5 separate regions of the Homo sapiens genome follow, and all the other regions are reported to be linked to region 1. Evidence: microRNA targets listed by miRTarBase, many of them from high-throughput screens and not tested one by one. Region 1 holds a microRNA gene; each other region holds the end of a gene's coding sequence.
Evidence for each region. The annotated mature microRNA hsa-miR-1306-5p reads CCACCUCCCCUGCAAACGUCCA and lies in region 1 at 1,835-1,856, opposite strand. An mRNA with a match to its seed (bases 2 to 7 or 8) in the 3' UTR can be bound and repressed. Matches are read on the target gene's strand: a 7mer-m8 pairs with bases 2 to 8, a 7mer-A1 pairs with bases 2 to 7 and ends in A, and an 8mer does both.

Region 1 (3,000 bases):
TCGATGACAGAGCCTCACAGTGCAACTCTGGGCGCCTCTCAAGTGCTCTCCCCACTACCCTCAACTCAAAGTTGAGGAAGTGCCACGTCGACCAGGGCACTTCCACCCTGCCCAGCTGAAGTGCACACACCATGCTGTGGCCCAGAAGCCATGTTGTTAAACAAAAATCAGGTAACACCACTTGCTTCTGGTGGCTTCCTGTGACACTTGGTCCAGGACTAGAACCTGGATCACAACTATCACCTGCCATCTCACTGTGTACCCACCTTGCCCTTGGTCTCCACACCCTCCAGCTGATGGTCATGCTGGCTCCTGGCATATACCAACATCCCCTCCTGACCCCCTCAGAAGTCCCCTCCCATTCCTCTGCACAGTGCCTGCTGCTCTGTGGTTTCCATAGCACACACCAGGATCCGCATCTGGGTCATGCATCAGGACGTCCTCCCATCCTGTGTTTCCCTCCTCAGATATTTCTGTCCTGTCCTCAAACATGCCTCCACCCAGCCCACTACCTGGCACCAGAGCTCTCTCAAAGCATTTCTGCTAAGGAAGCAACCACCCCTCCACTGCCCTGGAACACCCACTGCTTCTGACCCACACACGTACTTTTGAGCACTGTTTTAATCTTGGTCATCATCGGCTGCACACTTGTCTCTCCATCGGACGGATGGTCGCTGTCTCCGCCATATTTTTCCTCTGTTCGCCTCTTTTTGGGGGCACAAAGGCCTTCTTCCAGCAGAGCATCCACATCGTTGTCAAAGTCATCCTGCAAAACACGCTGTTCAGACACCAGAGCCCCTGGCGCTCATGCTCCTGCAACAGGAGAGCTCAACAGCATTCCTGAGAACAGACACAGAAAGGAGGTGCTCTCAGGGGGCCTAGATGTGCCCTTAGGGTGCATGATCATCTGAAAAACAAACAGGATGAAGCTACCAGCTGACACCAACACACCTGGTCCAGGGGCACACACTGCCAAGGAGCGTAACTCAGCAGCACCTGCTGCCCCACGCGCTAGATCAGGGATGCAGGGCCTACCCATGGGCCAAACTTTTCATTAGGAAACTTTAAAAATCTGGACTCCTTACATCTTTCTCTTCTCCACATTAACATTATTCCACCTCAGAGGGGATTTTGGTTTTTGTTTTTTTTTTTTTTAATTTCCCTGCTTTCAAAAGATGCTGCAATTCCCAAATCTCTCTTTGGGTTTTGCTAAGAGCCCTCTAGAGGAGGGGCTGCCAACATACCTCGTAGGGGAAATTCAAGGCCTCTTCATCCACTCTGTCTCTCTGAACGATTGCTTTAGCCGTGAACCCGCCTGCTCCTTCTTCATCTAGCTCCAAATTGTCAGTAAAATCTTCTAACTCATCGAGCACTGCATACTCCACTCTCTTTTCCTGATCCAGCTCATTCTCCTCATCCTTCTTATCAGCACTCTCACCCCCTATGCCTACCCCGTCACCAACACTCCCGCCAAAGGGACAAGCATGCACGTCCCCACTGACAGGGCTAAGGAGCAGACCGCACTCCGCCCGCACGTCGCGCTCTGCTCCTGTGTACAGCACCTTCCTGTCCTTACTCCTGCAGCTCTCGGTAAAGCTCACGCTAATCTTTACATCCTTAAGCAACTTAAGGTCAGGGGAGAACTTCCGGACCGCAGGTGCGTGCCGGGCGGTGCGCGGGCTGTGGCCACTACAGTTCGGGTCTATGAGGAGGCGGCCCTTAGAGAAGGATCCTTTGGAGAGAAGAGAAGCTCCGTAGAAGTTGAAGGGGTCCTCAGCAGGGAGTTCGGACTGTCCATCACCACCAGAGCCAACGTCCATTACCTCTGCACCACTGGACGTTTGCAGGGGAGGTGGTGGAGACTGCTCACGGGGCAGCGCTTGGAAGGGGCGAGCTCGGCTCTCCATCACCGCTTCTCCTGCGGGCCCACACGGGAGCGGAGAGGGGCTCTCATCTGTCTCCATATTAAAAGCGCTTAAGACTAGTTTACAAGACCAGAGTTTTACAAGCCCTCACATAAATCTACACAGCTAACATGCACAAGTCCGCTGAGACCCGGGCGCGTCCTGCCGCGCTGTGCGCTGGCGGCTTAGTCAAGCTGGCCACATTGCTCTTTTCATTAATGTAGACAGCTTTTAGAACCACTGCCTCAATTATTGGAAATCACAATGCACTCAGCTTAAGTGACTGGCGACTAAGCGAGTCTGTCTTCATGCCGGAGTGGCACCTTTCTTCTTCTACCTGCAAAGAAATTTAAAAATATCGTCACAAAATGACAGAAACCTTCCAATTCCCTGGTACCAAGTTAAAAGCCAAGCACTATTAACAGCATAGTAAAGGGCTTCAAAATAATATTCCCTAAGAGGACTTTTTAGGCATCAAAACAAACTAACCTTACTTTTATTCTTCAGAACCTGAATTATAACTTAAGTCCAAAGTTAAATATTTTGTTAATGCCCACTTTAATTCCTACTTCAGAAACACAAAAACTATATAATCATAAGGCTCAAAAAATATTTTAAAAATTTACACTAAACTCCACCACAGCATTCTTCTAACTCAGATAAGCAAGCATGCAGTGGGAGGCACCCTTTCTGGAACACACAGAAGGCGCGTGGCCTCCCTCAGGCCACCAGAGCACAGCAATCCACTCACCTGCAAGGGCTGGGTCAGTCAGAGGGCGAGCGCGAGACCCTCAGCTCAACTCTGCGGCACTAGGGGCCTCAGAGGCATGGCCAGGCGCTCTGCTACCCAGGGACCCCAGGGCTCTCCTGGGCCCACAGGGTAGCACGTGGACGGGGACAGTGATGCAGCGTGCTGAGGTCACCAGAGGTGGCAGCATAGTTCTGTTCCCGATGGAGGAGAGGGGTGGGTGGCTGTGGGGAAGGGACCTGCCAGGATTTGGGGTGGGGAGCCACAAGAGACAGCTGGAGCCGAGGCACAGAGAGGCCTGGGTGCCACCTGCAGCCCGTTCCGCCCTGGGGACAATAAGGAGCCACT
Region 2 (6,290 bases), not on the chromosome of region 1:
TGTTTCTCCTCTAAGTCTTCACCTTTCCAGGGTGGAAAAATAGTCATATGAGTCAACCGTTAACCGCAGAGTTTGGAGAGGAGTGGGAGGGAAGAATTGGGGGGCGGGGGATGTGTCCCTCTGCTGAGCTCTTGATTCCAGTTCTTTACTTTGGCCTAACACTCTGGAGATTCCAAATGGTTCTGCGGAGCATGTGCTATCCATGGTCACTGCCTCTGGGCAGAGTGGGCCCTCAAGCACTCCCCCTGCCTACAAGTGCATGATGGCAGCTGAGCAGGGGGAAAGGATGCTGTAGCTGCTAGAGGTGAATGTGCACCACCGACCCTGCCTGCTCACAGGGGCCTCTCAACTTGGAGGTGCCCTGAGTCAGCTTCCCAAAGAAGCAGGCTTGCGGAGCCAGAGTGACGTGGGCCCAGCTATATGGACAGTTGATTTTAAGATGGGGGACATCTAGGCCAGGTGCAGTAATCCCAGTACTTTGAGAGGCCGAGGTGGACGGATCACTTGAGGTCAGGAGTTCAAGACCAGCCTGGCCGACATGGTGAAACCCCATCTCTACTAAAATTACAAAAATTAGCTGGGTGTGGTAGCATATGCCTGTAGTCCCAGCTACTCGGTAGGCTGAGGTAGGAGGATCACTTGAACTCAGGAGGTGGGGGTTGCAGTGAGCGGAGATCGTGCCACTGCACTCCAATCTAGGTGACAGAATGAGACTCCGTCTCAAAAATAAATAAAAAATAAAGAAATGATGGGGGACATCTATTATATCCTTCTTCAGGCCTTCCTCTGCTTTTCTTCCTTTCAGGCCAACCAGGATCTCCCAACCCGAAGACAGCAGGCAGCCCAATAATGTGATCAGACAGCCTTTGGGTCCTGATGGGTCTCAAGGCTTCAAACAGCGCAGATAAATGCAGGCAAGAAAAGATGCCGCCGTTGCTGCCGTCACCGCCTCCTGGGTCGTCCGCCACGGGTTGCACTGCCGTGGCAGACAGCTGGACTTGAGCAGAGGGAACGACCTGACTTACTTGCACTGTGATCCCCCTTGCTCCGCCCACTGTGACCTTGAACCCCATGCACTGTGACCTCCCCCCTTCTCCCCCTTCCCACTGTGATTGGCACATCGACAAGGGCTGTCCCAAGTCAATGGAAAGGGAAAGGGTGGGGGTTAGGGGAAGGTTGGGGGGACCCAGCAAGGACTCAGAGAGTCAGACAGTGCCACTTGGCCACTTGGGGTAAAGCCAGTGCCAGCAATAACAGTTTATCATGCTCATTAATTTGGGATTTCAAAACACAAATGAAAACTCACACCCACCCACCCCCAAGTGCATGTCTCCATCACTTAAAAAGTAAGTTCCATTTGAAAATATCCTTTCTTTTTTTTTTCTTCCTATTTTTGTTTGTTTATACAAATATCTGATTTGCAAGAAAAAGTGCATGGGAGGGGTTTTAGTGGTTTAATGAATTTTTAATTAAGAAAGGGTAGTTTGGTAGTCTACTTAAAAATGTTTCTGGGAAATTCACTAGAAACATTAACCAATAGGATTTTGGTGAGCTTAGCTTCTGTATTCCTACTGCCGCCCAGAAAAGGGGCAGGGCTCTGCAGCCGCCAGGACAGACGAGCACCCCATGCCTATACCTCCCTCCCCGAGCTAAGTCCCAGGGCATCTGGGCCTTGCCTGGAGACTGGGCTAGCTCTGTAGGCTCGGAGAGCCTGGGGAGGGTGCCAACCCCACCTCTAGTATTTTGGGAGATAGGGAAAGTGAACCGACTTCCCCTTCCCATACCCCTCAGGGTGGTTCCCTACCAGCCAGGCTTACTACTTCTAGAAGAAAGCAGAGTGCCAGGGAGTGAGATTGCATCCCTGGGCTTAGAAGTGACGGAGAGAAGACTTGTTTAGTATTTTGCCATCAGCACAAGGAAAACCAGGAGAGAGTCTGCCTCCAGGACTCTGAGCCTTCTGCCTCGTATGTTCAGAAGGTGGATAGGTCTTCCCACTCCAGCATGGCTTGAACTCTTAGGGGTCTGCAGTGCTCCATCTCCATTGGTGGCCCCAGCTCAGTAACTATACCTGGTACATTTCCTGTGTGCAATCAGTACCTTGAAGGCAGAACATTCTGAATAAAGTTGGAAAAAGAACAGCTTTGCTTTGCAAAGATTGATGACAGACTGGTTCCTCAGAGGCCTAGGCTACCCGTCACCCCTTTTTCCAGAGCGAGGGCCTGGAATGAAGGCAGTTTATCCTCTGTCCCTGGAGCCTGGGGTTTGCTTTGGCTCCTTGAGGTGGAAGAGACTAAGAGGGCAGCTGCCCAGAGCAGCTGTGTGTACCTGGCTCCTCTCAGGCTTCCTGATCCCTTCCGTTGCACTGCGCCTTATCCCTCAGCCAGCCAGACAGCCTCCCTGCTCCTGACCAGCAGATACGTTTCGGAGTGGTTGGTGTGGTTTTTGTGATGAGGGCAGCACGTGGTGGCCAAGGTGGCAAGCTGAGTCTCACAGGCTCACTCCCTCGTTGGTTCCCTGTGGGAATGGTAGGCCAGGCCCAGTAAGCCATGCCCCAACACGTCCTCTCCTCCGGAGGAAGGGCCAGCTGCCAGCTGAGTCAGCAGCTAGTCCATAGCACAGCCTTATAACTGTAAAGCCAGGCATTGCCCATGAGCAGAGCTGGAACCAGAGCTTCAGTCAGTAAGAGGGAGGATTACCTTCAGGAGAAGGCAAGGAAGAAAACTGGCTGCTATCTTTATAGTTCCACTGCCCTAACCAAGTGTCCACATTCTAAATGTGTAGTGTCCATCCCTTATGTAATAGTGGTTTCCCGCCCAAAGTGAGACTTTCCTTTTAATTGGAGAAGGGTATAGAGGTAGTCCAGGTGGGAACGCCAGAAGTGCTGATTGCCCAGCCATTGGGACCACCTGTTCTTGCCCCACTACCCTCTAGTGGGAGGCCAAAGTAAAGGCTGGCTGGTGGGTGTCTGTGGATTGAGGATGTGGCAGGGACTGGTCCTCCCACCTCCCTCTGGCCAAAGATGGGCTTTGCCCGCTGTGTGCCTGTCACCACCCACCAGCAGTCATGCCCTGGGCTTCCCAAATGGAGAGGTAGCAGGCAACGTTTTTAAAAAGAAAGAAAACAGGAAACTGTATTGTGTCGGGGGAGGCGGGAGGGAGATGAGGAAACGGTTTGGATTTTGTGTGTGGGAGGGTATTTTTTGGGGGTAGTTGTCTGTAACTTTCCTAAGTGCTTTTTTTCCTTTTCTTTTTTAAAGTAAGTTGCAGGCTTTGGCTTGGAAAACCCCAGGGGGATGGGGGGCAGAAACCTGAGGCTGCTGCCCCTTTATCTGCCTTCACGGTACTGTCCCCTTCCCCCAGCTCCTCCCTGACCCCATGGGCCAGGCCTCAGACCTTCCAGCTAACCGCTTCCCATGAGCCACTACTCTGATGTCAGCCTATAACCAAAGGAGCTGGGGGGTCCAGGCCTGGTGACCAACCTTTCTCAGCCCACTCAATCAGGGTGCTCCCCACCTGCAGGCAGGAGGCAACACCCTATCTGCTACCATCAGCCCCTTCCAGAGCCCATCTGCCCCGCCCAGCCCTGCCCTGCCCAGCCATACCCTGCTCTGCCCCATCTGGGGGTGCCCTGCTCAGGGATGGGCTGGCAGGGCTGTACCCAGCCTCCCTGGTAAGCAGAGACTCAAGAAACCTCTGGGGTCCTGTTTTCTGGTCGTGTGATCCCAGGGGTGCACATGGGCCCCTTGGGTGTCTGAACAGAAGGGCATGGGAGGGAGGGCTGCACCCCTGCAGTCTTACTCTGCTGGTGTAGCGGGCAGCTGCCCACTCCCACCCCACCCTGCACCGCGGGCTCCTGAGTCGGCAGATTAAGCATTTTATAAATTGTATTTTAAATACATGTTTTAAACTTGTCAGATCTTTGTCCTCATTTCAGTCCCTGCCCTCTACCTCTTGCTGTGGCCGCTTATTTAACCCTGGGGGATTTCCCTCTGCCCAGTCCCAGGGAAAGACTGTCTTTGGTAAAACACGAGGCCGGGTGGTATGTGGGTTGAGGGGAAAGGACCCACCCCTCTTGGGGCTCCCAGAGAATGAGAGCCCTGGGTCCTGGGGCTCTGTCGGGGGAGCATGCAGAGGCCACCTCCTGCTCTTCCACAGGGCCTGTCTTAGAGCCAGTGGAGAGAGAGAATGGCTGCTTTTGTGGGGCTCCCAGTCCAGAGGGGGATGTGCTCACCTGAGGAGAGGCCTAGCCCTGTGCTTTGAGAAGGCACAGAAGGTCAAGACTGCACGCAGGGGCACCTGTAGCAGAAATCCCAACCCCGCGCAGGGCTTTGAGGTGGAACCCTGCACTCTGAGAGCCCAGTGGTGGCTGGGTGACAACTTGAGGGCCTTTCTTGGCAAGAGGCACAGAGGCTGAAGTTATTGGTGTTTATTAGCTCACCAGGCCACAAAAGCAAATCCCAGCAGCAGCTCCTGCCTGGTGGCCCATCTGTCTACAGGCCTTGAGCAGCTGCCTAGAGTCAGGCCTCCAGAGGGTCAGTGGGTTCGAGCTGGCACAGAGCTGAGCCACTTTCTGCTGTCAGAGTTGTGTTCCCTGGGGAGAGGAGTAGGGCAGAAGGGTGGGAGACATGTGGCCCTTTCCCTATCTGCCAGTATATGAGCCATCTGTGCGTGCCCAAGTGAGGAGAGAGAGGAGGCCTCCCCTCAGAAATGGTGGAACCAGCAGTTGTGCTTAGGGGCCTGATTCCAAGTCCAGAGCTCCCTTCCCCAGCGGCCTGGAGGGGGACTGCTGCAGGAGACGTTCCCCTCTGCCCAGGTGCACAGTCTGCTAGTCCTAATATGGAACCATAGGGAACTCAGAGTACTCAGTTAGGTGCCACTGAGTCCTGGACACAGGAAAGCAGAAGCACTCTGGCTTCAGTGGAACAATCTGCTGGGTACACAGGCCCTCAACAAAGGTTTGTCTTCTTCGCCTTTTACCCTTTCTCCTCCCTGGAGCAAGCAGCCTCTCAGGTATGATCTCTTAGAAAGATGGATTCCCAGGCATTAGGCCAGGGGCCTCTTAAGGAAGAATCTGGAAGGGCCTGGGCTGGGACCCTTTCTCTGGGCACCCACCTGTTTCCTTGAGATCCTGACTGGAAGAAGGGGCTGCGGATGTCAGGATCCAGGCCAGGGGGTGTGCACTGGTCTAGTGCATAGTGGTTGCTCGGCTGCCTACGGACCATCTTCTTGTCCAGCTGTGGGCAGAGCAGGATGCAGGGCACCTGGGCATAGGGGCTCTGCAGGTTGGGAGCTGGTGAAGAAGGAGGCAGAAGGAGGAATGCTTCACAGCATGCCCAGCCTTGGGAAGCAGGCAGATTCAAGTGAAATCCTGGCGTTGCTACATAATGACCTGAGTGGTTTGGGGCAAGTCACTTAACCTCTCTAAGCTTCTGAGCTGGAGGTGATAGTGGTACCCACCTCACAAAAGTTGATGATGAGGATTAAAGGAGAAATATATGCAAAGCACTCAGCTCAGTGCTGCACACAGAATAAGAGCTGGTAACAGCTTAACAAGGAGCAGAGGACTTTGTGATGGGTGTTGGCAAAGTCTAGTAGGCATGCTCTAGAAAGACTGCAAAGCTCCTATCCTGTTACTTGGCACATAGTAGGAGTCTAATAAATGGTACCTGGGGGAAGGGAGGCAGGCTTGCCCAGTGGAAAGAGCATAGATTTTGGGGTCAGACCTGGATATAAACTCCCCTTTCCAAAACACTAGTTAGGGGCATTGGGCAAATTGCTGAACTTTATCAGTTTCATTTTTGTTTTTTTTTTTGAGACAGAGTTTTGCTCTTGTCCCCCAGGCTGGAGTGCAATGGCGTGATCTCGGCTCACTGCAACCTCCATCTCCCGGGTTCAAGCGATTCTCCAGCCTCAGCCTCCAGAGTAGCTGGGATTACCGGTGCTCGCCACCACACCTGGCTAATTTTTTAGAGATGGGGTTTCACCATGTTGGCCAGGATGGTCTCGAACTTCTGACCTCAGGTGATCCGCCCACCTCGGCCTCCCAAAGTGCTGGGATTACAGATGTGAGCCACTGTGCCTGGGTCAGTTTCATTTTTCTAATCTGTAAAATGGGGTAAATACATGATTATGAGTATTAAATTCTAGAGCATCTGCAAAGGGCCTAGCACAGTGGGCACTCAATAAACAGTGAGCTGGGATTGCTAATCTCTACAGCTGTTCTTTCTCAGTCCTGGCTCATGGGACCAACCTGTGCTCAGGCTAAGGCAGGAGGGGAGGAGTCCAACGCAG
Region 3 (6,290 bases), not on the chromosome of region 1:
CAGGTTTGCCCCTCCCTGGTTTCCTGGAGACCTGGGAAGTTGAGTCTCAAGAGCAAGGAAGTTGGCGGAAGCCGGGGGTGGAGGGAATTCACAGGCCCTGGTCCCTAATTATAGGAGGAGGGTGACCTGAAGGGACATCCCTGGGACAGAGAGGGAACTCCTGTTGCCCCTCAGGGGAAGGCAACATCAGCGAGTATTGAGAACTTTAGACAGAGAGGCATGAGGCTCTGCTGCCCCTAAGTCCCATTACACTAGGGCAGCTGCCCTCTCGGAGCCCTGCCCATCCAGGCGGGGCAGAGGTCACAGTCACTGTTCCCCAATATCAAGAATGCTGCTCAGGGGAAAGGAATCTTGGTGTCCTGGAAACCTCTGCAGGAGGGAGAGGGGCAGGCATGGTGGTTGCCCTGCCAGACGTGCCTAGCCGCAGGGTCCCCACTTATTCTACTAACCCCACACTTCCTTCCTCCTGCCAGCCCCAGACCCCCTGAGTGACAGCATACACAAGAAGAAGCACACCCGGCCCACCTTCACGGGGCACCAGATCTTTGCCCTGGAGAAAACCTTTGAGCAGACCAAGTACTTGGCTGGCCCCGAGAGGGCACGGCTGGCATACTCACTGGGCATGACCGAGTCGCAGGTCAAGGTAAGTCTGTGCGGGAGATGGCACCTGCCCTGCAGGGAGGAGCCTGCCGGACAGGAGGCCACTGCGTTGGAGAGAGGTGGCCACACAACGCAGCCCCCCAGAGGGCAGCTGTCCTGGTGTCTGGGCACTGCCTGCCTGCCTAACCCTGGAGCCTGTGGTAATTAACCATAGCCGGGAAAGGCTGAGCCCCATTCTCAGAGCCTTATGTGCGGCACCTCATTTCATCCTCTCAGCAACCCGGGGGGTCGGTATCATCACCCATTTCGCAGATGAAGATCAGTGTCTCCCGGCTGGGAGAGCTGGGAGAGCTGGCAGAGCTGGGGTTCAACCCCAGATGTGGGGGACTCCAACCTGAGGCTTTCCCTCTCCCCCCGTATTTGGCCAAAAATTCCAAGCACGGTCGGCAGTCTCTGGCCCAGATTCATGCTTGATGCTCCAGTCAGCAAAAGGAGCTGACCTCAGTTTACCAATCCTTAAGATGAAGACAACGTCTCCTTCTACTAAGCAGGATCAGATGGGCTTCAGGGGCCTGGAGCCTTGTCGCCCACGCCAGGGCTAGGGAGGGTGAGCCCAGGCTCTCCCACTCCACACGCAGGGGCCCCAAATGCCCCCTAAATAGACCCGGGGAAACCGGTTTCTACCGCCTTAGAGTCTGGGGGCAACTTTCCCCACTTTGATGCTGGCTCAGTGACTCGGCGACGGGCCTAAGGATGCAGCAGGGGCAGCTGGCACCTGGGTCTAGGCTTTGCTCAGGGCCCTGGGGCCTCCCCGAGCTCCAACCCGCTGCGCCCTCCTCATCAGCCGCTCAGCTGCCCTGGGGCGAGAGCTGGGGGGAAGAAGCAGACACTCCTGCATGTCTTTCTGCTTCTGGGGTGCGTTCCTGCCCTCTTCAACTATCCCAAGCAATGGACCTACGTTACTTTTCTAACTAACTAGGGGAACAATTATTTATGAAGTAGGGTGAGGGTCTATGAAGCCCAGAGTAGGGACTGCTCATAAGCACCTTCCAATGAGCACCGGGGCTAAGCCTTCCACCCGCGCACTCCGCATCTTCCACCGAGTTCCCAGGTGGAGGAGGAGGAGGAGGAGGAGAAGGAGGAGGAGGGGGAGGGGGAGGGGGAGGGGAGGGGGAGGGGGAGGGAGAGGGGGAGGAGGCGGCGGTGGAAGAGGAAGCAAATGGTGGGGGCGGGGGGCGGAGGGGAGGGCTGCCGCGCTCACGTTTTTAAATTTTATTGTCCTTCCCCAACAGAAACGTGAATGTGACAGTCACTCCGTTGTTGAGCCATTTGTTTAGCTGTAAAAGCAGGATGGCTGTTCTCGCGTCCCGTGCGCGCTGTGCCCCTGTGCCCTTCACATTCTTTCTCATCGCAGGTGTGGTTCCAGAACCGCAGGACCAAGTGGCGGAAGAAGAGCGCCCTGGAGCCCTCGTCCTCCACGCCCCGGGCCCCGGGCGGCGCGGGTGCAGGCGCAGGCGGGGACCGCGCACCCTCGGAGAACGAGGACGACGAGTACAACAAGCCGCTGGACCCCGACTCGGACGACGAGAAGATCCGCCTGCTGCTGCGCAAGCACCGCGCCGCCTTCTCGGTGCTCAGCCTGGGAGCGCACAGCGTCTGACGCCCGCCGTCCAGGCCCGGGATCCTGGCTGCAGCCTGCGGGGGGACGCCGAGGAGCCTACCTTCCCCTCCCCTTCCCCACGCTCCTGGGGGCGCAGGGACTGAGTCTTTCTTTGGATGAGGGGCGCGTGGAGGAGGAGCAGCAGGTGCAGGGGAGGAGGAGGGGAGGCGGGGGAGGAGGAGGAAAAGGAGGGAAAGGGGACAGGCATCCTAGCTAAGGGAGGAGGAGGCCAGGAGGGAGGCACAGCACTCCTGAGACCTGGAAGCCGCTGCCCCTTGCACCTCCTCGGGCCTCGCCTGCCAGTTCTGCAGATTCACAAGTGGACAGAGGACTAAAATGACCAGGCTCTGCAGCCAAGAAACTGGCTGTGGGGTCCCAGACATGCCACTGTGATCCAGCTGTTGGGGCGGGGGGAGTGGGCAGGACTTCCCAGGGAGGGAGGCAGCTGGCTGGGGAGTCAGAAGTCCAGAGTCTTGGGCCCCAAGCCAGCTGCTGGCTGCAGAAGAAAAGACAGGTGAGTGGCCAGGTGCACTCCTCAGACCTGTGCACAGGAAGGGTCCCACTGGAGGGGCCAGAGCTGAGCACCTAACCCAGGCTGCAGGAAATCTGCCTCCAGGAGGGGAAGTGGGACATCCCAGTGGAGAAAAAATGCCCCTGACACTGCAGGATGACGGCCCCTGAGCTGCGGAAATCCCCCTGGCCTCCTTTCTCCGATTTACCCTCAGGGTCAATACCTCTGAGACCGCTGTGCCCTCCTCATCCTGACAGCCGGGGAAAAGGGGAGGGTGCAGGGAGAGGGGAGGCGGGGACGGTGTGCCCAAGGGCCACCCACCTGGGCATCATTTGGTGCTGATATAAGGACAGGCCCACCCAGAGAGAAAAAGCATCCCACCTGGGGAGGAAAGGAAGGGCTGGGAAAGACCCCAGAACGGCACCCCTCCAACAAGGCAGGAAGGGAGAAGGACAGCCCCTCCGGCTGGGTGGAGGATGCCAGGAAGGGGCTGAACCACGGCCTGCTGGGAATCACGGCCCTTCCTTTCCTCAGATCGCCTTGCGGCCTGGCACTGGAGCTGGTGCTGACAGGGACGCTGGCCAACAGGGTGGTATTTTTCACCCGGGTGATCTGAGCTGCTGGCAGGTAGGGGGTGGGCTGGGGGAGGCGGGTGAGGGCTGGTCTTAGATAGGAATGCAGCCCAGAAGGGACCAAGCACTTGCCCATCCTCACTGGCTTTCAAAAAATAAACAGTAAAAATAAAAGTCCCATGAACCTTACGGCTCCTGTGCTTCTGTGAAAGGGACCAACGGCAGGAAACTGGCTGTGAGGTCCCAGACTTGCCAGCTGTGGGGCCTTCCCCGAGGGCCGTTGTCTAGTCTCCTGGGGACATTCGTGCTCTGACAGGTTGCACAATACAAGTTATTTGAAACCTCACTGGTAGATGCCAGACACTGTCCCCAGGTGCTGAGAAACCCAAGGTGAATTTTATGGGGTCCCTGATCTCCAGGAATTTATAGCCTAGTGGGGAAGATGATCTATGTGGAGAATTGGGTATCATAAGAAAAATAAGAAGGGAGAGACTAGAAGAGCTAAGTTTAACAGAACACCTGCTAATTTCTCCCCTGTAGAATGTCTGGATTATCACTGACCCCACAAGAAAACTAGGCAGTAGGTATCATCTTCAATGCATGGAGGAGAAAACCAAAGCTCAGAAAGTTCCTAAACCAAGTCACAGAAGTGGGACGAGGCAACCTCAGAGTAGATCCCAAGGCCCTTTCAGCCACTTCCTTGGGTTGTGAAGGGCACCCTTCGAAGCCTTTTCTGTCAAATGAGAGGCTAGAACCAAAAGTAGTTTAAGGCCCTTCCAACTTCAACAATCTGTGCAACTAGCAACTAGGCTTGACCCCTTTGCTCTCCCAAGAAGTCCATCCTTGGACCCCCAGACCCCCAGGATGGGTGAACCTGGCCCTGGAACCAGCCCGAGAGGGGATGAGGGTGGAGGAAGACCCTAGCTAGGAGCATCTCAGAAAGTAGGGCACCCACCTTTCCTAAGACCCTTAGAGGACCCAGAGGACAGAGAGGAACATGACCAGAAAATGCAGAATGTGTATAAATTTCCACCCTCCATCTGTGAAGATGCCTATGCTCAGGTGTCAGTCTTTTCCCTTGAAAAGCAGAAAGGAGAAAAGAAGGGAATGGAGCACAATCTCTGTGTGCACACTGAGAAGCCGTGCTCTGTCACAAGTGTCCTGAATGGGTCCTACAGTGGCTGCAGCAGGAGAGGACCCTAGAATTCAGCACAGACTTCAAAGATAAAAAGTTTCTGTGGTTCTGGGAGGCTTGTGATTCCTGAGTGCTGCAGGCAGGAAAAGGCTATCACATAGCCCAGGTGCAAAGTCACCAAGCAGGTATGGAGGAAGATGCAAGTGACATAAAAACTGTGTTTACTTATCTTTTTCTGAAGCATGCTGTAATCTTAACTGCTCTGTTGTAGCTATAATTCCTGCATGTCTGATTCAAGTCATTTGAGGTCAGTATGAAATCAAGCCTGGGGAAAGTTTTTCCCAGGAGATATTTGCTGAGCTAAACAAAACCTCCTTTGACCTCAAAGTTCTGGGATACCTGCCACTGGAACCTTTAGCTAAAAGACTACAGCCTTCTGGGCCATTTCCTCTAATCCCACACCACCTTCCATGTGCAGACTGAACATAGGGCCAAGCACAGGAGAGGCACTGCCCCCCATTTCCCTAACAATCATGCTGAAGCATATTCAAAAGACTAGATTTGGAGTTCAAAGGAGGAGAAAACTCATATGTGGAAGACCCAGATTCCCAAGGGTCATTCAAGATAAGTCTGGCCCTCTGCAGATGCACACACATGTGAATGCATGTGCATGCCTGTGTGTGCATACATGTGTGTGTTACTTGGGAGAACACAAGGCTATCTCACTTCATCCATCATAAAGAAATCATAAGCCAGCCAGGCGTGGTGGCTCACACCTGTAATCCCAGCACTTTGGGAGGCCGAAGTGGGTGGATCACTTGAGGCCAGGAGTTCGAGACCAGCCTGGCCAACATGGTGAGAAATGGTGAAACCCTGTCTCTACTAAAAGTACAAAAATTAGCTGGGCGTGGTGGTGAGGGCTTGTAGTCCCAGATACTCAGGAGGTTGAGGTGGGAGAATTGCTTGAACCCGGGAGGTGGAGGTTGCAGTGAGCTGAGATCATGCCACTGCACTCCAGCCTGGGTGACAGAGTGAGACTGTCTCAAAAAAAAAAAAAAAAAAAAAAGAAAGAAAGAAAGAAAGAAAGAAAGAAAGAAAAAGAAAAAAAAATCATAAACTATAGGCCCCACTTTTATCCCTGCTCATAAATAGAACTTATTGTATATTCTGGGTTAAATGAACAAACATACAAAAAGCAAAAGAACTTTGGAAATGCATGCTCCCTGCAGCTCCTCTCTTACCACATCACAAACTTTTCAGAGACAAAAGGAAAGAAATTAAGTCCCACGTCCATGACAGCTGTGGTGTCTGCTCTGACAGGTGGCTCCATGGGCTCCACCAAGTAGGGACGGATTCTGCCATAGCTGTCACCTTTGTGGCTTCTGCTATTAGCAGGACCTGGGATATGTCTTCAGCAGGTCGGGGCGAGGGTGGGTGGATGTCCATGCCTTACCAGGCTCACAGTGGCCATATCCTGATGGTAACAATCAGAAAGTAGACAAAGAGGCCGGGTGTAGTGGCTCATGCCTATAATCCCAGCACTTTGGGGGGCCAAAGTGGGCGGATCAGCTGAGATCAGGAGTTGGAGCCTAGCCTGGGCAACATGGTGAAACCTCGTCTCTACTAAAAATACAAAAATTAGCTGGGCGTGATGGCAGGTGCCTGTAATCCCAGCTACTGGGGAGGCTGAGGTAGAAGAATCACTTGAACCCAGGAGGCGGAGGTTGCAGTGAGCCGAGATGACTCCACTGCACTCCAGCCTGGGCAAAAGAAAGGTGACAAAGGGCTGAAGTCCCACTTCTGGTAACCCCT
Region 4 (6,290 bases), not on the chromosome of region 1:
TCAAGTGCACCTACACCAACTGCTCTCAAAATGTGAACTGACTTTTTTTTTTTTTTTTTTGCCAACCCTGTGTCACTTAGTGAGGACCTGACACAATCCCTACAGGGTGTCTGTCAGTGGGCCTCATGGTAAGAGTCACAATTTGCAAATTTAGGACCGTGGGTCATGCAGCGAAGGGGCTGGATGGTAGGAAGGGATGTGCCCGCCTCTCCACGCACTCAGCTATACCTCATTCACAGCTCCTTGTGAGTGTGTGCACAGGAAATAAGCCGAGGGTATTATTTTTTTATGTTCATGAGTCTTGTAATTAAACCGTGATTCTTGAAAGGTGTAGGTTTGATTACTAGGAGATACCACCGACATTTTTCAATAAAGTACTGCAAAATGCTTTTGTGTCTACCTTGTTATTAACTTTTGGGGCTGTATTTAGTAAAAATAAATCAAGGCTATCGGAGCAGTTCAATAACAAAGGTTACTGTTGAGAAAAAAGACCCTATCATAGATTTACAAGTGACAACGTGGACAGGCGTAACAGAGTGTGTATGTACTTGAAAATGTGTACTAGTGAAAACGTCCTTGTCTAAACAAACTTCGTTTTCATAACCTAGAACATGAAGGAAGATTCTTACACGAGCTGGCTTCAGGACGGCCAGGGCTGAGTGTGAAGTCAGCAGAGCTGTTACTGTGGCAACCTAATATTGTGACCTCCATCTTGAAGAGTCTGCACATTTAAGCTGGGGATAGCGTTTCTTGACTTCTGTGAGGCTCCGGCAGGGGAAGAGGAAGCATTTTAATACATATGCCTCTCTTTTACAAAAAAGAAAAAAAAATCATCGTAGGCCCTAACATGTACCATGTTGACAAAAATGCCAGATCAAATGGATTTGAGAAATAAGCCCAATTCAAGGCTGGCTCAGCCCTCCACGGGGCCTCCCAGGGAAAGGAATTCCTTTATGTTCTTGGAAGCCCTTTTCTAGAAAAGCCATTCCATTCATACCTTTGTAGAGCAGTGGGCTGGGTGTGGAGGGCAGCGCGGAGGGTATCTGCAAGAGCCTGTATTTTCCGCCTCCCTTGCCCCCACTCCTTTTATCCTTTTAAAAGTCCTATCAGCCCTGCCTTCGTCCCTTCCGCCCTAAGCCCTAAGAGTGGGGGAGGTTTAATACGGCCAATGGATCTTGTATAAAGTCTACGTAAGTTTTAATTTACCAGAGCTATAAGATGGTTAAGGTAGACTAGTGGGGACTGCTACAGATAAAATGAGATACAAAGAACATTTGCAAATAAATGCCATAAAATTACAGTAGCTTGGAATTTTAGTGAATCATGGCCCTTGTGTTATCTAGAATGCTAATTATTCAAGCTGTTCCTAAACTTAAGTATGACATATAAGATTAAAATCTTGGGGGGAAAAACTGTTCAGATGAAAAGTCAAGTCAAGAAGTTTCCACAAAAGAAAAGAAAAATCCTAAAAACAATCTAGCTGTTGTTACATTAAATTTATTTCTCACCTCCATTAAAAGGGTTTTTGCTTTGGAGTTTTGTTAACTTTCGTTCTTTGGAGTAATAATATTTCTCTTGTGTATGGCGCTGAATACATTTGTCAATAATACGTCAAAAAAAAAAACACTTGGCTTCTTAATACTTGGAAATACGTACATATTCCTTACTATGTAAAACACTTTATTTATTTTGTAAAAATGTTTAAATATGAATAAAAATACTGTAACCCAAAGTAGTTGCCTACTTTTAAAAATGAAACTTGTAAAAATAAGAGGGAGCCCAAACCACATAGAAAGTCTTAGTTTATTTTGGTAGACTTGCTTTTTATAGGCATTGGTTTAAAGTGATTCTTTTCAGAGACATCCTTTGAGAAGTTAAAATTGCAGAGGCTTACGCTTTCTTTTATTTCAAATATGCATAGTGATTAACCAGGAATAAGGATTCTCCCATGTTCTGCCTGTTAAGAGCAAACAGATCTGGAGAACGGAAGCCCACCCTGCCTCCCTTTTCCATCTGAAGCAGTGCGGGGAGGCTGGCTCCTCTCTTTGTTCCCAGACTCCAGGGCAAGGGGCGACCATGCTGTATATGCTGTGCCTTGGGGGACCCCCAGAGGCTGCGCTCTGTGGCCTGTGCTCCCCCGACCTGTGCACCCGCACCCCAGTCGGCCACTTGCTCTCACATCAGGCAACGTCAGCCTGCTGCAGTGAAACTCAACCACGATTTTCCTTTGCACACAAATCCTTCCTACTTCCACCACTCCCTAGCAGAGTTCCCAGTGCCAGAGAGCACTGCTGGGGTGGGGGTGGGGACAGGAAGCCCAGTTATTGCTGTGTTCTATTTTAGGGGGCACTTCCTCAAGAGTCCCCTTGAAACCCGTTACCAGCCTGGAAGGGAGGATATCTTGCCTTTTACAAAATACGGTCGATACTCAATGCACAGCCTCTAAAACAAGGGCTACTCCAGTGTTCTAAAAGCACACGCCAATCCTGAGTTTAGTGACCACATTTTAAAGATCATCAGGAAAATGCCAAGTTCCCATTAAGACTTTAAAGCTCCTTGAGATCCCAGGTTGCGGGGTGCATAAATGGCCCAAATCGGAGAGTGTGCTATAGCAGGTAGACAGGTTTCGCTAACACGAACAGCTATCAGTAAAATGCCTTTATTCAGCTAATTCTATAGAAGCGGAGTTTTGAGAGTCTTTGGTTCATGTGAGGCAAAATCAGGTTTATGGAAAACGCAGCATCTGCTTCAAGGCTGCTTCATCTCTCTCAGGACAACTGAGTCTCCTGCGTGAGGGAGGAGCGCCTGCTGGAAAGCACAGAGCACAGCAGTATGCCCGGAACATCTCCATAGCCTTTGACAAGGCCACACTTCATTAGTTTTAATTTGCAGAAAGGAAATTAAATGATAACATTTTTTCCCAAAGCAGAGTGTCCAGAATAGGACTTCAGCTTAAAACAAAACATAGCATGTTTTTCATTAAATAACCCCCAAAGAAATTCAAAAAGTGATGATGGCAGCTCTGAGAGAGGGCTTGCCTTATATTACAAAGTCTGAGAAATGAAACCTACATCGTTAGCCTCGAGATCTTTGTCCCTGATGATATTCTGCAGATGCCCTCTCAAGGGTAAGTCCATTTTGTAATTTGGGGATGGTGTGGACTTGTATTTTACTTAAGTTTCTAACTAATTTTGAAAGAAGGCTTGGGCATTTGGAGAAGAGTGGTTTTTTTTGTGTTTTTTGTTTGTTTGTTTTTTGAGAAAAATAATTCTAATTGAAGCCTCATTTCCAAAAATTACTTTTTAAGTTCTTTTAATGTTTCATTTCCAAAAAATATATATTGGGTATTTTTTCATAGGGCTGTCCTGTGCCTGGCTAAAGGTAGACAGACTATACTAAAAACCACAAGTTTCTGGAATTAGCCTGACTGGGTAAGACCTGGATAAAGATGGTGCTAGTTTACAATGAAGGGATTTTGTTCAAAGCTGAAAGCTCCATCAAACTTTCTTTCCACTAATTTCAGCTGGGACTGGAAGAGAGAAAACTGGACAAAAATTGGCCTTTTAAAAAGCTGAAAAGTAATGAGTATGATTCATAAGTTCAACAGAGATAGGAGGGACATGGAAAAGGCATGGCGTACATCTGGGAATAGCGAATGCATATCAAAAGGCTTCATTTCTTTTGTTCTTTCATGAGGCTTGTAGCACATCAAATTTTGAATGTCTTCTTTTAAAGCTATGTGCGCACACACGCACGCACACACATATGCGGGCACACACACACATCCTCCCTCTGAACTGATGGTGTTTAGTATCGATAACATTTTCTTTCTTGGTAATACGAGGTAAATGAGGGGGGCAAAAACTTATGACTTCTGAGTAAAATGCCATGTCTTCTATATTCCGTGAGCTGCACAGTCTTGCAGGAATGCTCCACATTTCAGAGTAAATCTGAAACTGGCTTAAAAGCTCCAAATCCTCCCTTGTATGTGGTATGAGTGTGCCTTCATCTCCAGCTGTCAGAGCCAAATCGCCCACCTCCTCATCCAAGTGATGCCTAATCAGACATTTAAGGATTCTGAACTTGATCCTGTCTCTTCACAATATGTAGTAAATTTAAACTTACTTAAGAAAGTCAGTCCCTAACTAAGGACATTTAAACTTCCTTAGGAAAGGAGAGCTCACTGAATGATGTCAAAGTAATGAACTGATTTCCTCTACAAGGTCACTGCAACCACACCAGCTAGCTCTATCTCTACAGGCATTTAGACTTCGCTATGGGGCCACACCACCGGGTGGACAGTAACTCTTGGAAGTCTGTCTTCCCTTTTCTTCATTAATAAAAACACAGAACAATGACTAAGTGTCCAAGCATGTTCTTACAGTTCAGTACCTCCCCAGATGCTTACAAACAGTGATAGCATACCTCTAACTCACCACTGGCCTGGGCGCAAGAGCATATTTTGGTTTGTTTTTTCATAGACTAGGGGTAAAGGTCTGCACTACTAAGAAAATATCTGAATTTTCCCATTGTCATTTCCATGTAAAAACTCCCCTTGACAATAAACGTAAGTCCAAGCCACAGAGGGGAGAGCAATTTCCCACCTGTGGGAGGGCTTTCCCTAAACTAAATTTTCTACTTCTTAACCATCTATCCCAGAGCCTCTTCAAACACCAAAGAAAACGACAACAAAACAAACCTAAAAACAAACAGAAACACAGAAAAAGAACAAAGACTTAACAAATGAATTGGAGGAAAAGAAAATTCACCTACAACTCTAAATTAGATTTCCAGATGCATGGGCACGGACAGGCAGCCGCGTCTCGGGGACGCCCGGCATTACCGCCGTTTGGGGAGGATGAGGTTTCTCAGCATGTCGAAGGAGTTGCCGTCCGGGTGCACAGTCACAACCTCGCCGCCCTCCTGGTGAACCTGGAGGAAGCCAGAATCGTCCAGGCCAACGATGGACACCTTTGGTCCCTCTGCGCTGCCCAGATGGACTTGCTGACCACTGAAAAGGAAGAACAGCGTGCGGTCACTGGGAGGTGTCACAGGACGACTTAAGACAATGAGCTGAAGAATAATCCATGATGAGAGAGCTGGGCGTGCTGGGGAGAGGGCTGAGGCTCGCTGCAGGGAAAAGGCAGCCTGGGCTGAGCTCTGACTTTCTTCCACCCTGGTGAATGGTTTTAAGAACTGCTCAAATAACCAGCAGGATGCAAGTTCAACAAGGAGTCGAAATTTCTTCACACAACGTCACTCCTCCTAATTCTGGTCATCTGCGGTGATGGCTGGAACCACTTCCTCACCTCCCAGCGCTTTTAAGAAACACTGTGCAACTCTAGGTTTTTTGGCTGAGATTGGAGGAAAATAGGCCGAGTTGGCAAACAATGTTTTATCTTATAAAACAAAGTTGGCTCATATCAGCCACAAGTGAAACTCATCCTGATCCTACTTCTTTTGAATATTTTCCAAATGTACTCAAGTCACGTCCTTCTTAACAGCTTTCGAAGTATAGAATTTTCTCAAGTTTTTATTTTGAAGAATTTTAAATCTAAAGAAAAGCTGAAAGAATAGTGCAACAAACCTCATATTCTCTTCCATTCTCACACCAAATGAAAATATTTTCTGTATTTGCTTTCTTTCTTCACACATAAACACACACAAGCACACATTTTTTTTTCCTGCAACATATAAAGATAAGTTGCAGCTGGGTGTGGTAGCTCATGTTTGTAACCTTAGCACTTTGGGAGGCCAAGGTGGGAGGATTGCTTGAGGCCAGGAGTTCAAGACCAGCCTGGGCAATATAGTGAGACCCTGCCTCTACAAAAAAATTTTTTTTTAAATTAGCGGGCCGTGTGGCACACTCCTATTGTCTCAGCTACTTGGGAGGCTGAGGCAGGAGGATCATTTGAGCCCGGGAGTTCAAGGTTTCAGTAGTGAGCTATGATGGCACCACTGCACTCCAGTGACAGAGCAAGACCCTCTCTAAAAAAAAAAAAAGTGAAAATAAAAAAAGTTTTTTAAAAGCTGCAGGCATTGTGACACTTTCTGCTTAAATACTTTATCTCCTGAGAACAAGAACCTCCCATAAAATTATAATAGCATTAACTATGACCACTCAAGAAAGTCTGGATACAAACGGTCCATGTTCACGTCATTCCCACTGTCCTTTTAATATCCTTTGTGGCTATTTCCCTCCATCCAGGATCACACACATTACATTTAGATGTCATGCCTCTTTCGTCTTCTCTAATCCCAAACAATTCTGCCACCTTCTTTTGGTCTAA
Region 5 (6,290 bases), not on the chromosome of region 1:
ACCTATACTTTTGCTTACTGTGTTCATTCTTCCTTCCTGAAGTACCAAGATTCTTTATTTTGTCACTTCTGTTTAGAGAAATTTCTTTAGCCTTTCTTTTAGGGTAGGTCTGCTGATGAAAAATTATCATAGCTTTCCTTTTGAGAATGTGTTGATTTCCCTTTGATTTTTAAAGGTTATTTTTGCTGGATGTAGAACTCTGGTTCAACAGTTCTTATCTTTAGCACTTAAAAAATGTTAAGAGCCCAGTCCACTTGTGCTGTAAGATGTCCCATCCATAATCAGGATTTGTCAGATTGCTTCCTCATGATTGGGTTGAGTTAAACATTTTTGGTAGAAGTACTACATAATCTTCATGTCAGGAAACAGTTAATATCAGTTTGTCTCACTTTTGGAAACCAAGTTGATCACTTCGCTAAGGAAGTAACTGCTAGATGTTTCCTTATAAAAAGGTACATTTTTCCTTTTATCATTTTTTTAAGCAATTTCTGGAGTAATATTTTGAGACCATGTGAATATCCTATTTTCCAATTATCTTGAACCCAGTTTTAGCATTCATTGATCATCCTTGAAATATTAGCTAGAGAATTACAAAATTCTGGCTTTACTAAATCTGTCATTCCTTCTACATTTATTAGCTAGCAGTATTCTCTAAAGAAGAGCCTTCCTTTTTTTCTTTAATTCAATGTATTATAAGCAATTACTGTCAGTATTGTTTTTGATGGTCAAATTGCCTTAAATTTGGCCAATAAGAGCCCCTTCAAGTTATATGTATCCTTTAAAACTGTCCCCATTTTAATTTTTGAAAACTTGTTTTATTGTATAACAAGATGGTCTGGGATTTTGTACTTTCTCTGCCCAAACCTGGAATTAAAACTACCCTGAGCTAATTTCTCATCTAATGGATTGCCAAAAATTCAAAAACTGAACAACACACTCTGTCTGCAAGGCTATAGGTGGAAGTTCAAAATGGTACAACTTCTTTGCAGGGGAATTTTGCAATATCTAATTACATATGCATTTGTCGTTTGATGAAGCAATCTCCTCCTCATCTAAGAAGATTTCAAGAATACCAAAAAAATACATACACAAAGTAATTCTCTGGGGCATTGTATAAAATAGCTAAATATTGAAAACAATCTAAATACCCAACCACAGAAGACTGGTTTACTCAATTATGGTAAAACCAAGTAATGGAGTACTATACAGCAATAAGAAATGAATGAAGAAGGTTTCTGTGAACTGATACAGAATGATTTCCAAGATATATTGTTAAGTAAACAAAACATAGTACAAAAGCATTATATAGCATAATATTTTTGGTTGTTTTTTAAACCTTATCCTGTATTGTACTTATTAGCACTGGAAAGTGGAAGAGGTCTCTGCTAATTAGGGTGGAGAATTAATCACCTACTGGGTTTCCTTCTTTTCCCAGGATTGCCAGCAGTGAGTATCCCTGTTGCACTCTCAAACCAAGGGTTGCCAATAGGACTGCAGTTTATTGGACGTGCGTTTTGTGACCAGCAGCTTCTTACAGTAGCCAAATGGTTTGAAAAACAAGTACAGTTTCCTGTTATTCAACTTCAAGAACTCATGGATGATTGTTCAGCAGTCCTTGAAAATGAAAAGTTAGCCTCTGTCTCTCTAAAACAGTAAACATATCTTACAAATTAAAATGACTTTTAGGCTGGGTGCAGTGGCTCACACCTGTAATCCCAGCACTTTGGGAGGCCAAGGCGAGCGGATCATGAGGTCAGAAGATCTAGAACAGCCTGGTCAACATGGTGAAACCCCGTCTCTACTAAAAATACAAAAATTAGCCAGGCTTAGTGGCGGGCATCTGTAGTCCCAGCTACTCAGGAGGCTGAGGCAGGAGAATCACTTGAACCCTGGAGGTGGAGGTTGCAGTGAGCCGAGATCATGCCACTGCACTGCACTCCAGCCTGGGTGACAAAGCAAGACTGTGTCTCAAAATAAATAAATAAAATAAAATAAAATGACGTACAGAGATTCTATATTCTAGAGAGTCAAATGGTCTTGCTCAATTCTTGTAATTAGGTTCTTGTTAATACAGTCATTCCATGGAATTACTTTTTAAAATTCCTGTGACAATTAATAATAAATAACGTGTCAGCATTTAGTAAGCATCCACTAAGTGTACAATACTTCTACAATAACACAAGATACCTGTTCCTCAAAGACAATGCATTCTGCCATAATGTTCATTAAAGAGTTTACAGTAAAAATAAGATTAGGGATAAACTTCTCAAAAATTGTACATCTGTGTAACTAAAGCACTAACAAAAACATGAATAGTCCTTCTAGAGGTAACTTGGATAGCCTAGGCAGGCAACTTATCATGTGGTGAAGGCCGCCTCAGGGGTTGTTAAAAATGCACAGAAACAATTGAGTGCGATTATTGGCTTCTGAGCGCTGAGCAGAGCAGGTGGAAGAGGAACTTTGAGCACAGGAGGAAATGCAACCAGTCAGGGCCCAGAATCATGCAAATCTCAGGGGTATGCCTCTCTGGGGAGGAGCTCCACTTGCAGGGACTCCTTTTATTTCCCTAAGAAAGAGCTGAAATGACTGAGAACTTTCCTTTCCTCCTTAGAGTTACAATTTTACTTCTGCTATTCCGGAGCCCATGCCTAGAAGCCAGAACAACTCCATGTTACACTGAGTTCATGCTCCTATTTACTGATCACAAATGAGCTCATTAATGTCATCGAAACATTTATTGTAACCTAACAGACCATCACAGATTGGAAACTTGGTAGATAGCAGAGCATGGTATTAGTGAAAAAGGTTCAAAATACACAAGTAACATACACTCTGAAAAACATGCAGATAATTTGCTGATGAAGCAGAAGAGGGGATGCGCATGGCAAGAACTTGCCTTACCCCAGATTCTCTATATCTCATGGTTTCCTTTTCCTCTTGACTGTCTTTACGAGTGTTTTTTATTTGGGACCCTCGAGCCCAGAGATATTAATGGATATCTGTATTCAATATTTGACAAAATCTAATGGAAACCATCCATTTACTCATGATAAGGCTTCATCACTGGATTTCTGTGTCTTCACTAGAACACCATTGTCATCTCATATTGATCAGGTATTTTAATCTAGCACTTACATATTGTTGATAAATGAAAGCTGAATTGTTACTTAATAAATTCACTTTGTTTAGTAAAAAAAAATTGTTTTCTAAATATGACGTTCATGAAGAGAAAATAATGAGTCAGAATCATCTGCAGAACCACTGGAATGTTTCATCGTCACCTGTTAGTTTTCATAAACAGTTTTCTGTCCTCTCTGAGATCCTCCCGCTCCCAAATACTCAACCTGATTAACTTCACATAAAAGTCTTATGTGCCAGGCTTAGTAATATTCCTATAGATTTTGACTCTGAATCCCTGAAAGAGGAAGAAATCCATGAGAGAAAATTGCATTACTTTATAGCAAGAGGAAACCGTTTTAAGTTTTTTAATTGCTCAGACACCACAACATCCTAGATGGAGGAAACCATTTTAGTTGAAGGAGCAAATATGATGTCAAAAGCAAGTAAATAAACAAACCGTTGCCCCAATCTGTTTTTATGTAATGAATTTAAAAAAAAAGAGAGAGAGAGAGAGATGGGCTCTCCCTGTGTTGCCCAGGCTAGTCTCAAACTCCTGGGCTCAAGTGATCTGCCTCCCTCAGCCTCCCAAAGTGCTGAGATTAAAGACGTGAGCCACCACACCTGGCCGAAATAATAATATTCAATATTATATATTCAATGATATTATTCAGTATTCAATATTATTTCAAATAATATTAAATCTCTTGTTCCTGTATCTCTACATGAGCTGCACTAATAATTTGAATCTGGAAATTAAAAAGTGAAACATTTACCGTTCTCATATACTGATACCCAACTACCATGAAATGATACCTAATTTGTTTTTCTTTTCTCTTCATTTTTACTCTTAATCTAGTAGGTCTCATTTTGCCAAGTCACTGTCTGGGAATTTAAGTGGCAAATACTTTCTTTGTCTCAGCTAATTAAACTCTAAAATTATTAGCAACAGAACTTCCAGAACAGAGTGTTTTTGAAAGGTGAAGATGTCTACACGTGTAAGATGAGTTCCTTGATAACACCTGAAAGACCCAAACCAAAGCAAAAGTTTGAACACGTGTCAGAGTGAAAAAATGATGTGATCATAAAACATGGTGCTCTGCCACCACAGAGAGCCAAAGGAGCAAGCGGGAAAACCACTGTTCCACGCTGGCCCACACTTAGCGTTACCAAAAAAAGCACCTGAAACCCAGGAGGCAGAATGTTCCCTTTGAGTGGCTGACACCGGGTCCTCTGTGATGACATCAGACTGGGCTGTTTAAAATTAAAGATGGCATGGTATAGAAGAGGAGCTTGCAAAATGACAAAAAAAAGTGCTTATTCCTATTAGGAAATAGCTGCACCTCCTAATGTAAATAAGTAACTTTAGGATTTTAAACAGAATCTGAAGGATAGTGAAAAGAAATAAGCAGGTACTAATAAGTAGACCTCGGGATTCAGCAAGCCGTGTGCCATACCTTATTTGATTCAAAGCAGGGGAGTAGGCCAGGCGCGGTGGCTCACGCCTGTAATCCCAGCACTTACGGAGGCCGAGGCGGGCGGATCACGAGGTCAGGAAATCGAGACCATCCTGGCTAACATGGTGAAACCCCATCTCTACTAAAAATACAAAAAATTAGCCAGGCGCGGTGGCAGGCGCCTGTAGTCTCAGCTACTCAGGAGGTTGAGGCAGGATAATGGCATGAACCTGGGAGGCAGAGCTTGCAGTGAGCCGAGAGTGCACCACTGCACTCCAGCCTGGGCGACAGAGTGAGACTCCATCTCAAAAAATTAAAAAATAAATAATAAATAAAAAGCAGGGGAGTAAAATAATGGAACTTTAAAAATATCTCTTATTATAAATTTTCATTCATTAACTACTTTTAATCCCCCTCCCTTTTATTATTATTATTTTTTTTTTTTTTTTTTTTTGAGACAGGGTCTTGCCCTCACCCTGGCTGGAGTACAGTGGCACAGTCCTGCTCACTGCAGCCTTGACCTCCTGGGTCCAGGCAATCCTCCCACCTCAGTCTCCCAAGTGTGGCACCACCAGGCCCAGCTAATTTTTTTAATTTTTTGTAGAGTCAGGGTCCTGCCATGTTGCCCAGGCTGGTCCTGAACTCCTGGGCGCAAGCCATCTGCCCACCTTGGCCTCTCGAAGTGCTGGGATGACAGGAGTGAGCCACCGTGCCCAGTCCCCCTCCCTTTCTTCAAACATCTGGTTATCTGTACCAAGGCACAAGCCTAGGAAAAGACATATCCGTTGTGTTTAGAAGGACCCAGAGGAAGTTTAAAATAGAAGGCTTTCCTCAGTTATTTAATAACTTAAGCAATGTGTACACTAGAACATAAACCTGAAAATTTAATAAAGGCAAATAACACGAAAAAAAAACCAAAGGCAACATTAAGTAAAAGTAATTACTACAGGATTTCGGAGGAGCTTTTTTATTTATTTTTCTTTGTACCTCAATAGAATATAAACCCAAAAATATTTTAGGCAGTTTATTAAAAATATATTATTACAATTGTATAAAAGTAAATAGTTGAGGAAATCCATGAAGTGATAATAAAAGTGAGGAAGAAGAATAAAACCAGAAATAGATTAAAAACAAAAAATGCTTGTCAGGGTATCTATATAGATGCTTAATATTGGGTAGTATATGATATGGTGGGAAATTAGCTTTCCTAGTGGGGTAAGGCCACCAGATTTAAAAATCAGACAACCCTGAATTGAATCTTGTTGCTGCCATTTCCGAGCCGCGTAACTTGTCTTGAGTTTCAGTATCCTGACCTGTAAAATAGGGATAATATCCACTCCTTGGGGTAGTCGGAGGGATTAAATTTAAGTGACACACTGAAAGCACATAGCATGATACCTGACAGAATAAGCACGCAATATTTTGTAGCTATAAATAAATGCATGCAATCATGAATTTCAGTCATTTTCTTATAGAGGCCTCACAGTAAACTCTTACAGACGCCACAATTTGGCATGTGGCCAAATTATAATTTACTGAAAGCTTATACCAGAGACCAGCTATATATTTCCCTGATGATCTGGCCTCCCCTGAGAATGAAGTTTAAAATATCTGGAAGAACTGATAGACTACATTTTTTTTTTTTTTATGGAGTCTTACTCTGTTGCCAGGCTGGAGTGCAGTGGCGGCAATCTCGGCTAACTGCAACCTCCGCCT

Region 2: the mRNA of SPATA21 is a reported target of hsa-miR-1306-5p. The part of its 3' UTR that is shown has no 7-base or 8-base seed match.
Region 3: the mRNA of NKX6-3 is a reported target of hsa-miR-1306-5p. The part of its 3' UTR that is shown has no 7-base or 8-base seed match.
Region 4: miRTarBase lists HLCS as a target of hsa-miR-1306-5p. Seed matches in the 3' UTR shown: 7mer-m8 at 4,035-4,041 and 8mer at 1,505-1,512.
Region 5: the mRNA of QRSL1 is a reported target of hsa-miR-1306-5p. Seed matches in the 3' UTR shown: 7mer-m8 at 1,892-1,898.

Annotation. Positions count from the first base shown.
Region 1 is chr22:20,084,928-20,087,927 of GRCh38, reverse strand. MIR1306 (microRNA 1306) reads right to left here and starts at 1,870; the gene lies at 1,786-1,870. It overlaps DGCR8 (DGCR8 microprocessor complex subunit), which reads right to left. Exons shown (of 14, transcript NM_022720.7): 2 at 1,245-2,241; 3 at 607-766. The coding sequence starts at 1,964. MIR3618 (microRNA 3618) reads right to left here and starts at 2,182; the gene lies at 2,095-2,182.
Region 2 is chr1:16,394,233-16,400,522 of GRCh38, forward strand. It overlaps SPATA21 (spermatogenesis associated 21), which reads right to left. Exons shown (of 13, transcript NM_198546.1): 12 at 5,112-5,289; 13 at 4,411-4,590. The coding sequence ends at 4,533. SZRD1 (SUZ RNA binding domain containing 1) reads left to right here. Exons shown (of 4, transcript NM_001114600.3): 4 at 806-3,913. The coding sequence ends at 908. Among named protein-coding and RNA genes, the nearest start is that of SZRD1, 30 kb to the left of the region's middle.
Region 3 is chr8:41,642,419-41,648,708 of GRCh38, reverse strand. NKX6-3 (NK6 homeobox 3) reads left to right here. Exons shown (of 3, transcript NM_001364841.2): 2 at 474-643; 3 at 2,015-3,532. The coding sequence ends at 2,260. Among named protein-coding and RNA genes, the nearest start is that of NKX6-3, 5.3 kb to the left of the region's middle. RefSeq lists a silencer at 1,920-2,149 and an enhancer at 3,464-3,523.
Region 4 is chr21:36,749,407-36,755,696 of GRCh38, forward strand. It overlaps HLCS (holocarboxylase synthetase), which reads right to left. Exons shown (of 11, transcript NM_001352514.2): 11 at 1-5,011. The coding sequence ends at 4,840. It overlaps SIM2 (SIM bHLH transcription factor 2), which reads left to right. Exons shown (of 11, transcript NM_005069.6): 11 at 1-511. Among named protein-coding and RNA genes, the nearest start is that of SIM2, 53 kb to the left of the region's middle. RefSeq lists enhancers at 279-804, 805-1,329.
Region 5 is chr6:106,664,347-106,670,636 of GRCh38, forward strand. It overlaps QRSL1 (glutaminyl-tRNA amidotransferase subunit QRSL1), which reads left to right. Exons shown (of 11, transcript NM_018292.5): 11 at 1,436-4,071. The coding sequence ends at 1,656. Among named protein-coding and RNA genes, the nearest start is that of LINC02526, 28 kb to the right of the region's middle.